Linked DNA regions of Homo sapiens: regions 2 and 3 are each linked to region 1. The links come from fine-mapping of genetic effects on gene expression. Tissue or cell type: whole blood. Region 1 holds a variant in brackets; each other region holds the start of a gene. All regions are shown on one strand. Distances are between the middles of the regions.

The links. PIP is the estimated chance that this variant, and not a neighbour inherited with it, causes the effect.
Region 2: TP53INP2 starts here. The variant in region 1 is fine-mapped to the expression of TP53INP2 in whole blood (TOPMed, PIP 0.96).
Region 3: MAP1LC3A starts here. The variant in region 1 is fine-mapped to the expression of MAP1LC3A in whole blood (TOPMed, PIP 0.98).

Annotation. Positions count from the first base shown.
Region 1 is chr20:34,483,126-34,488,952 of GRCh38, reverse strand. The region is part of intron 20 of ITCH (itchy E3 ubiquitin protein ligase); the gene reads right to left. Among named protein-coding and RNA genes, the nearest start is that of MIR644A, 20 kb to the right of the region's middle. The variant G/A (reference allele first, on the strand shown) is at 2,180.
Region 2 is chr20:34,701,940-34,707,766 of GRCh38, reverse strand. TP53INP2 (tumor protein p53 inducible nuclear protein 2) reads right to left here and starts at 3,423. Exons shown (of 5, transcript NM_021202.3): 1 at 3,255-3,423; 2 at 2,293-2,409. It overlaps LOC105372599 (a long non-coding RNA gene), which reads left to right and starts at 3,585. Exons shown (of 2, transcript XR_936690.3): 1 at 3,585-3,630; 2 at 3,954-4,108. RefSeq lists a silencer at 3,148-3,627.
Region 3 is chr20:34,556,310-34,562,136 of GRCh38, reverse strand. It overlaps MAP1LC3A (microtubule associated protein 1 light chain 3 alpha), which reads right to left and starts at 3,419. Exons shown (of 4, transcript NM_032514.4): 1 at 3,229-3,419; 2 at 2,874-2,929; 3 at 2,684-2,790; 4 at 1,792-2,401. The coding sequence starts at 3,268. The coding sequence ends at 2,239. PIGU (phosphatidylinositol glycan anchor biosynthesis class U) reads left to right here. Exons shown (of 12, transcript NM_080476.5): 12 at 1,158-1,595. The coding sequence ends at 1,271. RefSeq lists silencers at 1,614-1,663, 3,238-3,287, 3,628-3,717.

The sequences.
Region 1 (5,827 bases):
ATCCTCCTACCTCGGCCTCCCGAGTAGCTGGGAATATAGGTGTGCAACACCACGCCTGGCTGATTTTTGGTTTTGTATGTAGAGATGGTGTCTCTCTGTGATGCCAAGGCTGGTTTTAAATATCTGGCCTCAAGTGATCTTCCTGCCTCCGCCATCCAAAGTGCTACGATTACAAGCGTGTGCCACCATTGCCAAGCCATATAATTTCTTTTTTTTTCTTTTATTTTGTTTTTGTTTTTTGAGACAGGGTCGCGCTCTGTCACTCAGGCTGGAGTGCAATGATACAATCTGGGCTCACTGCAGCCTCCACCTTCCAGGTTCAGTCAGTTCTTGTGCATCAGCCTCCCGAGTAGCTGGCATTACAGGCGTGCGCCACCACACCCAACTGATTTTTGTGTTTTTAGTAGAGACGGGGGTTTCATCATGTTGGCCAGGCTGGTCTTGAACTCCTGACCTTAAGTGTTCTGCCTGCCTTCTCCCAAAGTGCTGGGATTACAGGCACGAACCACCACGCCCAGCCCAGATAATTTCATTTTGAACAAATACTTCAGTATTTGTCTCTACGACATGAGGATTATTTTTTAAAACATAAATCATAAAAACATGACCGCATCATTATTTTATAAACCTAGAATTCTAAATCTAGTGACAATATCCTTCAAAAAATGAAGGTGAAATAAAGATGTTTTCATATAAAAGCTGAGAAAATGCATCACCAAGAGATGCACACTAAGTGAAATGGTAAAGAAAGGTTTTTTTTTTTAAAGCCAAAGGGAAATTATCTTAGATTTAAAAAAAAAAATGAATCTGAGGAAAGAAATAAGGAGAACCAGAAATAGTAATGTGAGTAAATATAAGATTATTTTTGAAAATAGTTAAAAATTAAAGCAAGAATAACAGTAACAAAGTATTATATTTGTGACACGTAGAAATAATATATGACAACAACACCACAAAGAGCTGGAGTGAGGTAAATGGAATTATATTATTATGAGCTTCTTTTCTTTTTTTTTGAGACGAAGTCTCGCTCTTGTCCCCTAGGCTGAAGCGCAATGGCGTGATCTCGACTTACTGCAACCTCCGCCACCTGGGTTCAAGCGATTCTCATGCCTCAGCCTCCCAAGTAGCTGGGATTACAGGTGCCTGCCACCATGCCTAGTTGATTTTTGTATTTTTAGTAGAGACGGGGTTTCATCATGTTGGCCAGGCTGGTCTCGAACTCCTGACCTCAGGCAATCTGCCCACCTCAGCCTCCCAAAGTGCTGGAATTACAGGTGTGAGCCACCGCACCTGGCCTATGAGCTTCTTATATTGTACAAGAAGTAGTGTTTGGGTCAACAGGGATGTTAAAGATGCATATTATCATAATCATTAGAGTTGCCACTAAAGTTAAACAAAGAGGTATAGCTAAAAAACCAACAGAAGAGCTAAAAAAGAAAGTAAAAATTGCTTTATTCAAAGAAGGCAAGAAAGAACAAAGAAAGTTGGGAAAAATAAGAAACAAATAGCAAGGCGAGACAAATAGCAAAACAAATAGCAATGGTTAGACAAAAGTCCAACCAAATCAGTAATAAAATTAAACATAAATGTACTGAACACTCCAATTATAAAGTAGAGATTATCAGGATAAAAATAAGACCTGGCTGGGCACGGCGGCTCATGCCTGTAATCCCAGCACTTCGGGAGGCTGAGGTGAGGGGATCACGAGGTCAGGAGATTGAGACTTTCCTGGCTAACACGGTGAAACCCTGTCTCTACTAAAAATACAAAAAAATTAGCCAGGTGTGGTGGCAGGCGCCTGTAGTCCCAGCTACTCCGGAGGCTGAGGCAGGAGAATGACGTGAACCCAGGGAGCGGAGCTTAGAGTGAGCCAAGATGGCACCACTGCACTCCAGCCTGGGTGACAGAGAGACTACGTCTCAAAAAAAAAAAAAAAAAAACCTAACAAATACTTTTAAATACAATGAGAGTGGCTGGATGTGGTGGCTGACATCTGTAATCCCAGCACTTTGGGAGGCTGAGGTGGGTGGATCCCTTGAGCACAGGAGTTCAAGACCAGCCTGGGCAACACGGTGAAACCCCATCTCGTCATGTGGGTGTGGTGGCACATGCCTGTAGTCCCAGCTGCTTGGTGGCTGAGGCTAGAGGATCGCTTGAACTTCTGGAATTGGACGCTGCC[G/A]TGAGGCAAGATTTCACCACTGCACTCCAGCCTGGGTGACAAAGTGAGACCCTGTCTCAAAAATATTAATAATAAAAATAAAACATAATAAATAAATAAATAAATAAAATAAATAAAATAGTGAAAAACACAACATTCCAAAATTTGTGGCTGGGCGTGGTGGCTCATGCCTGTAATCCAGGCACTTTGGGACGCTGAGGCAGGCGGATCACCTGAGGTCAAGAGTTCAAGACAAGCCCGGCCAACATGGCAAAACCCCGTCTCTACTAAAAATACAAAAATTAGCCAGGCGTGGTGGCGGGTGCCTATAATCCCAGCTGCTCGGGAGGCTGAGGCAGAAGAATCACTTGAACCCAGGAGATGGAAGTTGCAGTGAGCCAAGATTGTACCGCTGCACTCCAGCCTGGGCGACAGAGCAAGACTCTGTCTCGGGGGAAAAAAAAAAAAAGGTGTGGACTGGATGCGGCGGCTCATGCCTATAATTCCAGCACTTTGGGAGACCAAAGTGGGAGTATCGTTTGGATCCAGGAGTTTGGAGACCAGCCTGGGTAACATAGTAAGACCCATCTCCTACAATAAATAAATAAATAAGTAAGCCAGGCATGGTAGTACATGCCTGTGGTTCCAGCTACCTGGAAGGCTGAGGTGGGAGGCTATCTGGAGCTCAGGAGGTTGAGGCTACAGTGAACCATGACTCTACCACTACGCTCCAACCTGGGCAACCTCAGAGTGAGACTCTATCTCAAAAAAAACAACAAAAAATTGTGGGATATAGCTAAAGAAATACTTAGTTGGAAATATGCAGCTTTAAATCCTTATATTAGAAAACAGAATGTGGGAGGATAGCTTAAGGCAAGGAGTCTGAGACCAGCCTGTGCAAAATAGCAAGACCACATCTCTACAAAAATAAAAACAACCAAAAAATTTGCTGGGCACAGTGGCTTGTGCCTACAGTCCCAGCTACTCAGAAGGATGAGGCAGGGGGATCCTTTGATCCCAGGAGTTTAAGACTGCAGTGAGCTCTGATCGTGCCACTGTATTTCAGCCTCGGCAACAGAGCAAGACTCCGTCAAAGAAGAACGAAATCTAGACGTATCGTAAGAAAAGGTAAGAAGAGGGAGGGAAGAAGGGAAAGAGAAGAGTTTCTAAAATCAATGATCTGAAATATTTAAGAACTCCAACAATCACAAATAAAAAGACAACCCAATTTTAGAATGGATAAAAGATTTGGATACACACATCACAAAAGAAGAGCTACAAATGATCAATATGCATAGAAAAACGTACTTGACACCATTAGTCAAGGAAGAAATGGAAATTAAAACCACGAGATATTACTGACAATGCTGAATTGGCAAGAACGTGAAGCAACTCTCAAATACTACTAGTAGGACTGCAAAATGGCAAAAACACTTTGGGAAACTGGCAGTTTCTAATAAAGTCAAACACCTTCCCAGCGATTTCACTCCTAGGTATTTACTCAAGAAAAATATGTCCACAAAAAGATATCACAAGAATGTTTATAGCAGCTTTACTCATAAAAGCCCCAGACTGAGAAACAACCAAAACATTTATCACCAAGAGAATGGATAAACAAATTTTGAGATATACACAGCATGGAATATTTCTCAGCAATAAAAAGGAATAAAATACTGATATAAACAATATGGCTGAATCTCACAAACACCAAATAAAAGAAAAAATCAGACACTAAAAGCTAGATATAAGAGTACATACTCTATGATTTCATTTTAGGAAGTTTAAGATCAGAAACAGTTATAGAAATAGAACTAAACAGAAATGGTTACCTACCTCTGGGGCTGGGAGAAGGGAGGTGTGCATTGGCCCCTTATGGGGTCCAGAATAGAAAAAAAAGTTCCACAATTTGGGTCATATTTACATGGACATGATGCTATATGGAACAGTGTTTACAGAATTGGTAATTAAATGAGTGATCTAGCACAACTTCTCTCCATAAAATGCTCACATTTGGGCTGATATATATATTTGTCAAATTTCAACTTCTACACTTAAGATCAGTGCATTTTATTCTAAGGAAATTATACTTCTTAAAATAATACTAAAAACCCCCCAAACTCTGAAATTTTAAGCAAGCCATTATTGAAGTAGATACTAAAAACCTTTTTAGCTGCCCATTATCTTAAAATGTTATCTTACCAGCAACAAAACTATTGAGAAACGTAGTACATCTCTTGGAATCTCGAAACATTACCTCTCTGGAATGCTATATATGTCATAAGAAAATCTAGACATATCATAACAAAAAAACTGGAGAATTGACAAAAACGAATTGACTACATTTTAAAAGCAGATTTCAAAATAAACTTTTAAAAGGATAGATTGTTGTCCAAGAAATAATGACAGCTCACTGTGTTAAATAGTATACTTTCAATTATGGAGGGAAAAACCAGGCAAGAAATGCAGAACCTGGAACTTAAGAAGTAAATATGCAAAATTTAACCCTGGCTGGAAAGAATTGCTATTGAGAAGGTATGAATGAACTATTAGCTCTTGAGACTAGTAGCATGAACCAATGGAAATAATCAGAAAGGATATACTATAAAACATCATTTTAGTTATAAATTTTACCCAACCTTATGATATAGTTTGGCTCTGTGTCCCCACCCAAATCACATCTTGTAGCTCCCATAATTCCTATGTGTTATGGGAGAGAACCAGTGGGAGATAACTGAATCATGGGGGCGGGCCTTTCTCATGTTGTTCTCATTATAGTGAATAAGTCTCACAAGATCTGATGGTTTTAAAATGGGAGTTTCCCAGCACAAGCTCTCTCTTTGCCGGCTGCCATTCATGTAAGACATGCCTTGCTCCTCCTTGCCTTCCACCATGATTGTGAGGCCTCCCCAGCCATGTGGAACTGTAAGTCCATTAAACCTCTTTCTTTTGTAAATTGTCCACTCTCAAGTATGTCTTAGCAGCAGTGTGAAAACAGTAAATTGTTACCAGGAGTGGGGTGCTGCTGAAGATAACTGAAAATGTGGATGCAACTTTAGAACTGGGTAACAGGCAGACGTTGGAACAGTTTGGAGGGCTCAGAAGAAGACAGGAAAATGTGGGAAAGTTTGGAACTTCCTATAGACTTGTTGAATGGCTTTGACCAAAATGCTGACAGCAATATGGACAATAAAGTCCAGGCTGAGGTGTTCTCAGATGGAAATGAGAAACTTTTTGGGAAATGCAGCAAAGGTGACTCTTTGTATGTTTTAGCAAAGAGACTGGCAGCATTTTGCCCCTGTGCTAGAGACTGGTGGATTTGTACTTGAGAGAGACGATTGTACTTGAGAGAGATGATTTAGGGTATCTGGTGGAATAAATTTCTACGTAGCAAAGCATTCAAGAGGAGACTTGCGTGCTGTTAAAGGCATTCAGTTTTGTAAGGGAAGCAGAGCATAAAAGTTTGGAAAATTTGCAGCCCAACAATGCAATAGACAAGAAAATCTCATTTTCTGAGGAGAAATTCAAGCTGGCTACAGAAATTTGCATAAGTAATGAGGACCCGAATGTTAATCCCCAAGACAATGTGGAAAATGTCTACAGGGCACGTCAGAGGTCTTCATGGAAGCCCCTCCTATCACAAGCCTGTAGGCAGGCCTAGGAGCTAAAAAT
Region 2 (5,827 bases), 220 kb before region 1:
AAGCAGCTTTACCTATATTACCTCATGTAATCCTCACAACAACTACAGGAAGTGGATAATTACTGTCCTTACTTTACAGTTAAGAAATTGAGGCTCAGAGAAGTTAACTGTCCCAAAGTCTCAGAGCTAGTAGGAGACAAAGGTGGGATTGAATCCACACAATCAGATTCCAGAGGCAGCACCCAGAATCACTATATTCTATTGCCTTTTCTGGGTGTCTGTCTGAATTTGATATTTTCAATTTGGTGGCCAGGGGTCATGGTCCATGTGTATTTTTCTGGGAAAAAGGACCTTGGTTTTCATCATGATTTCCTAAACAGCAATCTTTGACCCCAGAGATTAAGAACCACTCCTGGAGCCTGTGTGGTTTGAAAAGCACTGGCCAGCAGAAATCCCATAGAACTGCTACCATCTTACCATGTGATTTGGCACACCTCGGTTGTGTCTGTCATATGAAGTGTAAAGATGGCATGCCGGCAGGCCCTCCCCCCTCTGACCCCCTTTTCCCAGGCTCCTGTTCAAGGGCAGCATCCAGGGGTAGGAGGAAGATCAGGTTGCTTGGGCTCAGTGAGACAGCAGGTCAGTGGGAGGTGATGATGAAGGGAGGGAGCTGTCAGTTCCCAGGAGCCCTTAAGGATGAGCACTGAGGGTTGGACCCAGACCGAGGTAAGCCCTTAACCAATCCTTCCCTGGGTGAAGATGAAGAGGGAGGCCCCCTACTGCAGAAATGGAAACACCAAGGTGGTAGCTCTAGATCTACCCCCTCCCCATGCCAGCCTACCTCAGGACTAGAGCTTGGCTGGGGGCTGCTGGCCATACTCCCCCAGTACCTGAAGCCTGACTGACTCTCCACACCTGTTCCCTAAAGATGCTCAACGGTTTTGCTGCTGAGACACTTGTCACCATTCTCTAAGGGTGTTTCCACACTTCCTGTAGAACTTCCTGGGGGCATGTCCAGACTTCCCTGAAGGCATTTCTCCTCTTTCTGCTAATCCACCTGCAGTATTGCCATGCTTATTGCTACCTCCCCCATTCCCTAGAAATGTTTTCACACTTGCTGCAGAATCACCTCACTTCCATACCCTGAGAATATTTCCACATCTGCAGACTCACAGTAGGCTTAAGATGCTGGCTTCTCTGGTGGGATGGGGGTGGGAGATCTACAGGGATTAAGAAGGTGGGGCCACCCCCAACTAGTGTCCACCCAGCACAATTCATGTATCCCAACCCATATGTAGCCACAGGGAGCTAGTGACTCCATTACCAAAAGCCCAGAAAGTTTGGCCCCTCTTGAAGGAAGGGAATATCGAGGCCTTGATGAGGCACATCCTCCTTCCAAGAACCTACTAATTCATGGAATATGAAAGAGAAGTTAAGAGCTGTTTCAGGGACCATCATATTCACCCAGCCCATTTTAAAATCTGATGATCAGAAAGAAGACATAAATCTATCCAAAAATACATGGCTAGATAGTGGCAGGGCAGACCTAGTCCCACGTTACTGTGCATCCAGTCCAGAGTGTACACAGTCAGGAAAGACTCAGCAAACAATCCCCAAGAATACAATGATGCAGGGGTACAGGGAGGTGAAAAAGACCTTGACCTAGCCACACCACCCCTCGCCTAGCTACAAAAGGGTCTGGGGTTACTGGCACCAAGATTTAGCATGCATTTACTGAAGACCCACTGTGTACCAGAGCCTGCACTGTGCCTCCCCAAATTTCAGATAGGTTTAGGGGAGGGAGGCTCAGGGGAAAAGCTCCCTGCCTGAGGTCACACAGCAAGTCAGTGACAGCCAGGAGTGAAAGCAGTCACCAGCCAGCCAGTGCCTGCCCCCTCTCCTGACCACTTGGGGAGCCTCCCAGATTTCCTTTCCCAGCCCTGCCAGCTTCCTGGTTCTCACATTCCCAGTTCTGCTCCAGGGAGAACCATTCCCTTTAATAACTACAGCAGCTCTGCCCAGAATAGCATTTGTGCCCTAAGCCACCCCTACCCCCAGCCCATCCTTGAGCAAACTCCCAGCAGGAATGGAGTTCCTGGTTCAGCCTCTAGGCCCATCCACTTGTTAAGTCAGAAACTCTCCTTATCCTATCCCTTCTCCTATACTCTCTGTGGGCAGAGGTGACGAGGGAGCAGCAAAACACCTGCAATTGTCTGCACTAGGCCAGGTCAGGCCCTTCCTAGCTGACGACCTAGGAAGTTGGGAAGGTAAAGGGCCAATAGAGGGAACCCTCACCCCACCCTCCACCCCAACATCAGCCCTGGAGACACCCCGAGGCAGCCAATGACTCACCTCTCTGTGATCCAAACAGCTGGGAGGCAGCGATTTTATTGGACTCTAGGACTTCAAGGTACAGTGAGGACAGAAGGGGTCAGGACCACAAAAGGTGAACCAATCTCCAGAGATTCCCTGGAAAAGGGTCCAGGAGTAAGGACACCTAGGAGCCTATCAAACCGTGATAAGGCTGAGCCCAAGATCGGGTCCCCAGTGGAAGGAGGATGTGTATCTTACCACTTGTACTGAGCCCCTATTATGTCTTTGCCCCTGGCTAATAATCCATCTGTCACTCAGTGAGCATGACTCTAATTGGTTATGTGACCTCGAGAGAGCTAATCCTCCTCTCTGGGCCTGTTGCCCCTTCCATGCACTGGGGTCTAAGACCCTTCATTTTGGGTCTAGGAGTGACATCAGCTAAGGCGCTGCACACAAATCAGGGATTAGGAGGATGTTATTCTGTTAGTCCCTGGGGGCGGAGTCTGGAGCCGGAGGGAGGGGATCCCACCACCATCTGGTGCTGTCCCAACCACCTGGAGTCCCATGCAGCCCTGAACTCCTGACGACCCCCTCAACCTAGGCCCAGCAGCGCCGTCTGACTCCTTCTCAGGTTGCAAAGAGAAAGTAGGGGATCAGAGGCCTGACCCCAGCCCCTGGATAAGCCTAGGAAATCGCCGATCCCCCTGCAGCCCCCTTTGGATTGCAGCGTCTCACCCAGGGCCCAGCCCCGACACAGCGGCTACCGGGTCACGGGAGGACAAGCGACCCGAGCCTGTGGGGGCGGTACCGGCCTTGGTGACGTCTCAATGTCATATGCAAATAGAACGACGTCATGGTCTACCGGGCGTGCGGCAACCAATCGGGAGCCGGGAACGCGGCCCCGGCGGCCGCCGGCGGAGACAGACAAAGGCCCGGGCGCGGGGGGCGCAGGGCGTGTCCGTGGCAGGGGAGCCCCCAGGCCCACCCGGGTCGGGACTCACCTGGGGGCGGGAGGGGGGCGGCACGGCGTTGAGGTAGTTGTGCGGCGGGGCGTCCCAGGGTCGCCGGCCGCTCACAGGCCGGGCCGCATCGCCGGGACTCGCGGGGGAGGCGGCGGGGCCGCGGTCGCTCCGGGCTGCTGAGCTCGCCCGCGGGGCTTTGAGTCTGTGCGGCCGCTGCGGCGGGGCTCACGGCACAAATTGGAACGTTCAAACAGCTGATTGTGACGTCACAAAGGGGCCCGCCCGCCTCGCGTCACCGGCTGGCGGGGCGGCGGCCAATCCCGGGCTGCGGATCCCCCCCTGCCCCTCCCCTCCCCTCCCCTCCCGGTTTGCGGGCCGGGCGCTCGGGCCGGGAAACGTTCTCGGAACCGGGAGGGTGAGTGTTCGGGGAGGCAGCTGCGGGGAGCTGGGAGCCCTGCGCCGCGGCGAGCTCTCCGCGAGGAGGATCTCCACTCCCTCCTACCGGCTCCTTATTTTCCTGATTCTTCCCGGATCGCAGCGCCCTCACCTCTCCCACTGCTCCCCAAATCCTTTCACTGCATCCTATATCCAAGTCCCCCGATGCGGACCCTGTTCTCGACCCACACCACGTCCGTGCACCTGCATTCTCCCCACTGCCCTTATTCCTGCTCTCCCTCCCCCCTCTGGCTCACCTCCTCAGCCTTACACACTCTGCTTTCCCACCCCGTTTTTCCTCAGCTCGGCGGGCTTGAGAAAAGAGGGACATCCCCAACCCCCGGTTCCCGGGGAGCATCTGGGAATGTAGAGAAGTTAGTGAAGCTGACGTGAAATTTCGCAGAGTAGGACTTGGAGAGGAATTGCCCTGGGCTGAGTAAACATTGACCTGAGACGGCTCCGCGCTTGAACGTTTACATACCTTATTTAATCTATGTTGCTACCGGGGCTGTAAAGAAGTGGCAGGACAGGGACTGATTATGAGTCCTGATTTACACGTGGGAAAGCTGAGTCTCACAATCTCACTGTTAGCGTGTGAACTCATGTTCAACAATGCATTCAACATTTATTAGGCACCTACTATTGCACCACCATACCACTAGCTGACATGTATTGGCACACTTACTGTGTGCCACGACCTGTGCTATGGGTGTGTTTTTTTATCTTCACAACAACCCAAAAGGTAGATATTGTCCCGTTTAACAGTTGAGGAAACAGACTCAGAGAGCTCAAGTGACTTTCTTAGGTCACAAAAGTACAGTCAATGGCAGAGCCAGGATTTGAACCCATAGCTCCCAGCCCTGACCCTCTCCATTCTCTACATGAACCAGATGGTCTAAACCTCAGGGCGCTTTAGCCTCCCCAGAGTCCTGGCTTTCAGTCCTGACTGTGCCCTAGACTTGCTGTGTGACCTCAAGTCATGTTACCTCTCTGGGTCTCAGTTTGTCAAACAAACATATCCAGGCTTCCCTCTAGAGCTGCCATTGTAAGATTCTTCCACACTCTCTGCCCTCAGGATTCCACCCACCCCACGCTCTAGGCCCCAGCTCTCCCAGTGGCCTGGGAGATGCCCGAGAAGAGACCACAAATACACATATCAGAATCTCCAGGGCCAGAGGTTCTAGGTCAGCAGAGCAGGGCTGGTGGGGGAGGGTCCGAGAACTGCCCACCTAGCCCAAAAGGAGGCCGGAGGTGACCTAGGCCAGAGGTTAATGATCTAGTGATAAAACTTTTTTTTTTTTTTTGAGACGGAGTCTCGCTCTTGTTGCCCAGGCTGCAGTGCAGTGGCACGATCTCGGCTCACTGCAAGCTCCGCCTTCCGGGTTCACGCCATTCTCCTGCCTCAGCCTCCCGAGTAGCTGGGACTACAGGCGCCCGCTACCACGCCCGGCTAATTTTTTGTATTTTTTGTATTTTTGTATGTTTAGTGTTAGCCAGGATGGTCTCGGTCTCCTGACCTTGTGATCTGCCTGCCTCGGCCTCCCAAAGTGCTGGGATTACAGGCGTGAGCCACCGTGCCCGGCACTCTAGTGATAAAACTCTATCCCAGCCTCATCTGAAACCCCCAAGGGACTCCTTAACCCTAGCGACAGGGGAAGAAGCCAGAAAAAAATAACCCAAGGCTGAGGGGTGGAGAGGGGAGTGGCATTGTGGCCCTTGGAGTGTTATACCCAAAGTGTCCTCATTCCATGCAACTCTGAGCCTCTGCCCATCACAGCCACTTCCTGCTAACCTCATACCCTTTCAGACCTACTTGCTGACTTTAATTAAATAATCCCTAACACGTCTCTCCTGTCAAGCCACTTGTTTGTTCTAAAACCTGATGTGGCTCCTAAAGCCCCACACTCCTAACACAGAACTCATGCCCCCCATGCTCCGGCCCCAGTTCTCTCCAGCTTCACCTCCCCTTCTCCTACACGCATCTTGTGCTAAAGTCAAACTCCTTGTTGACTCTACAGCACTCTCCCACCTCCACCCTTTTGCTCAAGCTGTTTCCCCTGCCTGGAATGCCTTCTTCAGAACTTTCTGAAATCCAGATCTTTCCTGTCTTCAAGATTCTACTTGGCCAGGTGTGGTGGCTCACAGCCATAATCCCAGCACTTTGGGAGGCCAAGGCA
Region 3 (5,827 bases), 73 kb before region 1:
CCTTGGCAAATCCCTATTCCTTTCTGGGCCTCCTTGAAGAGACAGTGGGCTGAGCTTCTAGGCTCCCTTTGATTCTTCTGTGTGTGGCCCAGAATGGGACAGACAGACTGAGCTGGGCACAGAAATACCATAGTGACAGAACCATTCGAAGACCCTGCCCTGATGGAGGCCCCGGGCCAGGGGAGGAGGCACAGTCAGGCTGTCAGCTGAATGGAAAATTACACTTTCGATGAGTCTGTTATCGAGTAGAGATTAGTGGGGCCAAGAACTAATCTGGGGGGCAAGTGATCCTTCCTGAGCCCTGAAGAGTAAGCAGCTGTCAACTAGATGAACGGGGAGAGAACATTCCAGGCAGAAGAAACAGTAAAGATCCTGCCGTGGGGTGAGGTGGAGCCGGGAGAGGGCGGACAGGGACCCTAGCAAGGTCTCAGAGCACGAGGGAGTTCGAGCTTTGCCCTAAGGCTTGGGAAGCCTTTGGAGGATTTGAAGGCTGGAAGTAACACCATCAGATGTGGGTTTTGAAAAGCTCCCTCTGGCTGCCAGGGAGAATGGGGTGGGCACGGGTTTGAGAGCAGGGAGCCCAAGGACCAAGCTTTGCTGTTGTTTAGGAGATGAGATGACAGTGGCTCTGTCCAGAGTAGTGACTGTGGGGATGGATCCAAAGGGTGGATTTGAGTTTAGGGGGAATTGACAGGTCATGGTGGCTCGATGTATGAGAGAAGTGTCAGGGCAATTTTGTGGCCTGGGCACCTGGCTGGAAGATGGGGGCATGGATGCTGAGTGGGAGAAGTGTATTTGACAGAGGGAAGGTGAGGAGTTTGATGTGGACCTGGCTGGGATGGAAGTGGCTGTGGGAGGATGGGGCAGAGGCCTCTGGTTGCACAGGCACCAGGCTGGCATTCGAGGCCAGAGCCTGGGATGGAGGTGTAGACCATGGGTGGGGGCAGGGGGAGTCCAGGCAGCTTCTGAGAGGCCAGACCTTGCAGGGTCAATTATGGGCCCTGAGGTGGGGGCCCTGAGGAGGGCCTCTCCAGTGATTGTGATCCAGAGCCAGGCAGGGGCGTTCCTGTCTTCCAACAACACCTGCCAGCAGTTCAGGGATCCTGGGTTTAGGGGGAGGTACCCAGCAGCGCCTCACACCCTCTCTCTCCCCCCAGATCCTGCTCATCTCTGATTACTTCTATGCCTTCCTGCGGCGGGAGTACTACCTCACACATGGCCTCTACTTGACCGCCAAGGATGGCACAGAGGCCATGCTCGTGCTCAAGTAGGCCTGGCTGGCACAGGGCTGCATGGACCTCAGGGGGCTGTGGGGCCAGAAGCTGGGCCAAGCCCTCCAGCCAGAGTTGCCAGCAGGCGAGTGCTTGGGCAGAAGAGGTTCGAGTCCAGGGTCACAAGTCTCTGGTACCAAAAGGGACCCATGGCTGACTGACAGCAAGGCCTATGGGGAAGAACTGGGAGCTCCCCAACTTGGACCCCCACCTTGTGGCTCTGCACACCAAGGAGCCCCCTCCCAGACAGGAAGGAGAAGAGGCAGGTGAGCAGGGCTTGTTAGATTGTGGCTACTTAATAAATGTTTTTTGTTATGAAGTCTACCCTGAGACCACATCTGCATTGCACTCCTAGAGGGGGTGGCCCCTAATAATGTTCTGGAACACTACACACAGGTGTGGGTTTCCAGAGCGAGCACCGCGGCCACAGAACACAAGTCTGTGCGCCAGAGCCCGGGGATGGTGCGGGCAGCCCCACCAGCACCCTCCCCACTCCCAAGCAAGCGGCTGGAGGCACAGGGCCAGGCAGGCCTGAGCAATCTTTATTCTGCAGAGGGACAATGACCACAGATCCATACACCACGTGGAGACCGAGGGGCGGGGAGCCAGGGGCCAGTCTTTCAGGGGTGGGCAGGTCCAGGCGGTGGGCAGAGCCTCGGGTGGGTGAGGGGCAGATGGGCAGACAGGCAGGGGCCTAAAAAAAAGATGAACCACACAGCAGGGGTGCTGGGAGCTGCTCCCCACCCTCCCCCATCCCACCAGCCAGCACCCAGAGGGACAACCCTAACACGACCGGCCCAGGATCCACCCAGGGGCAGAGTAGGTGGGTTGGTGCCCTCTGACTAGGGGGGCACATGCCTGCCCAGCCCACCACGGTAGAGGCAGCTCAGTTCAGGAACCAGGAGCTCTCTGGGCAGGGCCTGACCGGGGCCGCCCGACTCCCAGGCCGAGCCCCCCTACTGCTGGCTCAGAAGCCGAAGGTTTCCTGGGAGGCGTAGACCATATAGAGGAAGCCGTCCTCGTCTTTCTCCTGCTCGTAGATGTCCGCGATGGGCGTGGACACACTCACCATGCTGTGCTGGTTCACCAGCAGGAAGAAGGCCTGCGTGGGGTTCAGCTGCAGGCGGCGCCTGCAGCCGGCGGGAGAGTATGCAGCTGTGAGGGGCTTGGCTGCGGGACGGACATAGCCCTGACCCCCAGAATGATTCCCAGCCTTTCACACCCATTCTCACCCCAGCTGTCACCTCTGACCCAACACCGACTGCAGCCCCGACCTTGACCTTTCCAGCCACCCCAGAACAGGGGCCCACCGCCCGGTCCCATCACCCCTGACCCCACTCCCACCCCTTCTCGGCGGGAACCCGGCTCCCCTCCCGACCCTAGCCACCTCCTGGCGGCGGCTGCCCACGCACCGGATGATCTTGACCAACTCGCTCATGTTGACATGGTCCGGGACCAAAAACTTGGTCTTGTCCAGGACGGGCAGCTGCTTCTCACCCTTGTAGCGCTCGATGATCACCTGGGAGCAGGGCGGGCGGGCAGGGGGTCGTGTCGGGAACGCGCGAGGCGGGGGCGGGGCAGGGCTGGGGGTGCGGGACTCACCGGGATTTTGCTGGGGTGCTGGTCGCGGATCTGCTGTACCTCCTTACAGCGGTCGGCTGCGGACAGCGGCCAGACCGTGAGGCCGGGTCGGGCCGGCCCAGGTCCGCCCCGCCTGTCCCGGAGGGGCGGCCCCCGGCCACGCCCCAGCTCCAGCCCCCACCCCCGGGGCCATCAGGCCCCACAGCCCCTGGCACCTATCGCGGTGGGGAAGCGGGCAGCCCCCGCCCAGGCCGGAGCTGGTCCCAGCCCGAGGGTCCAGCCAGAGCCTGACGTCACGGGGCTGACGTCACCTGCGGCAGTCGGGGTCGGCCGGCACCCCTGCCCCAGAGCTCGCAGCTCGCCTGCCGGGCCTCACCGAAGCTCCGCCGCTGCTTGAAAGGCCGGTCTGAGGGCATCGCGCGGGCCCGGCTGGGCGCGCAGGCCGGGGCTCTGGGGCGCGGGGATGTGTCTGCGGTTTGGGGGCTCCGGGGGCTCCGCGCCTCGCGCTCAAGGGCTCCGGGGCTCGCGCTGAGCACGGCGGCTGCGGCTGCGGGAGGTAACTCGCCCGGTGACGTCAGGTCACAACATTCCTTAAAGGGGAGGCCAGTGCGCCGCTCCCATTGGGCCGACGCACAACCCGCCCGCCCGGACCCGTGACGTCACGGCGCAGAGAGCCTGGGTCCGCGGACCGGGACGCGAGGGGCGGGGCTTCTGGGCGCGTCACAGTCCCGTGACGTCATGGGCAGCGCGGGAGCTTCTCCCGCAGCCCGAACTCAAGGTAAGGCCCGGAGGGCGGTGGGGCCGCCCTAGGCCGATGGAGCGGGCGGGCCAGGCTGCAGCCCCACGGCACCACTTCCCGCCCTCACCGAGTCTGTGTCAGGACTGACGCGGTTCTGGGCGCCGTGGGAAACAGCCGGAGCCAAAGGCCCGGCGCCTTCACGGGGCTTAGGGCGAGAGAAGGGAGAAGGTGCGGGAGGCACAGTCAGACACAGGATAGAACAGGATGCTAGAAATGAACGCCCAGGTTTGAAAAAGAATAATATAATTGAAAAGTAGAGCCATCGAAATTCAGGTCTCAGAGGATGAGGTGAGAAGGCAGAAAAGGACAACAGAAGAGAAATCGTGGACCTGGAGGCTGATCGGAAGCAGCTCACCAGAGAGACAGGTGATGGGGAATAAGGAAAAGGGCACAGATGGCAACGCCAGGAGAACTCGCGGGCCCGAGCAGAGCTCCAGAGGCGAACACTGAAAGACCTGCAGAGACAGTTCCTGAAAAAGAGCTGCCAGAAATGATGCTTAAAATCCAGAGCAGAATGCGCAGACTGAAGATCAACATTTTTTTGGGGGAGGGGGGAGGGGGACGAAGTCTCGTTCTGTCGCCAGGCTGGGGTGCAGTGGTGCGATCTCAGCTCACTGCAACCTCTGCCTCCCGGGTTCAAGCGATTCTCCTGCCTCAGTCAGCCTCCTCAGTAGCTGGGATTACAGGCGCCTGCCACCACCCCCAGCTAATTATTGTATTTTTAGTAGAGATGGAGTTTCACCATGTTGGCCAGGATGGTCTCGATCTCCTGACCTCGTGATCCACTCGCCTCGGCCTCCCAAAGTGCTGGGATTACAGGTGTGAGCCACCACGCCTGGCCGCCGAAATAATTTTTAAAGAATGTAGTTTAGTAACAAGGACATGGAACCCAAAAGGAAGAAATTAGATGGAAAAATGGTGAGCAAATTGGTAAACATGTGAATCTAAACAAGCATTTAATATGCAATATGAATAATAATGATTAATTTGTGGGCCACAGAAACAAGATGCATGAGACACAAGAACATGGAAGACTGAGAGGGCAATTTGAGAGGGGGTTAAAGAGACTGAGCATTGTCTGGCTTTGTAAAGTCAGGTGTGTATTTCAGATATTTAAGAGGATCACCAAAAGAATACAAACGGAACTATAACTGCCAATGCAGAGAAAAGGGTAGTGATGGGTATTAAAACTATAATGGAAGGCAGAAAGGGAGAAAAAGGAAGCAAAGTAAAAGGGATGGTAAATATATAGTACAAAACCAGAGGTAGAAAATGTGGTTTACATTCACCTCTTAAAACACAGATGACCAGATTGGCCAAGAAAAAATAAGATGCAGCTCTATGCTATTTACAAGAGGAAATTTAAAACCTAAGGGCACCAAAAAGTAAAACGATGGGAAAAGGTGTACTAGAGAAAAACTAACCAAAAGATGTACCTATAGAAAACTCAGACAAAATAGGCCTTCAGGCAGAAGACACTGGGGATAAGAGGATCAACATGAAATGATGCGAGGAGGAACTCTGTGAAGAGAGGAAAGTTCTGAACTTCTATGTTCCAGGGTTTTTGTTTTTAAGGCTGAAAATAGGCCAGGCGCAGTGGCTCATGCCAGTAATCCCAGCACTTTGGGAGGCCGAGGTGGGTGGATCACTAGAGGCTGGGAATTCAAGACCAGCCTGGCCAACATGGCAAAACTCTGTCTCTACTAAAAATACAAAGATTAGCTAGCTGGGCGTGGTGGTGCACGCCTGTCATCCCAACTACTCAGGTGGCTGAGGCACAAGAATTGCTTGAACCTGCTAGGCGGAGGTTGCAGTGAGCTGAGATTGCGCCACTGCCCTCCAGCCTGGGCAACAGAGTGAGACTCTGTCTCGAAAAAAAAAAAAAAGAGGCTGAAAATATATTAAGAACACAAGGAGAAATTGCCAGGTCCTCCATCATAGGGAGACATAAGACCTCTTTGAGTAACTAATAAACCAAACAACCAAAAAAAAAAGGACATAGAGGATGTTAATACAGTTACTAATCAAGATCAATGAACCCCAATAGAAAACCTGACAGTTAGTTTTTTAACTTTTAAAATTTAAATTTCAGACCTGTGTGAGACCAACACATTATTTTCAATCACACAAGGAACATTTACAAAAATGACCCAACTACTAGGGTGCACGACAAATC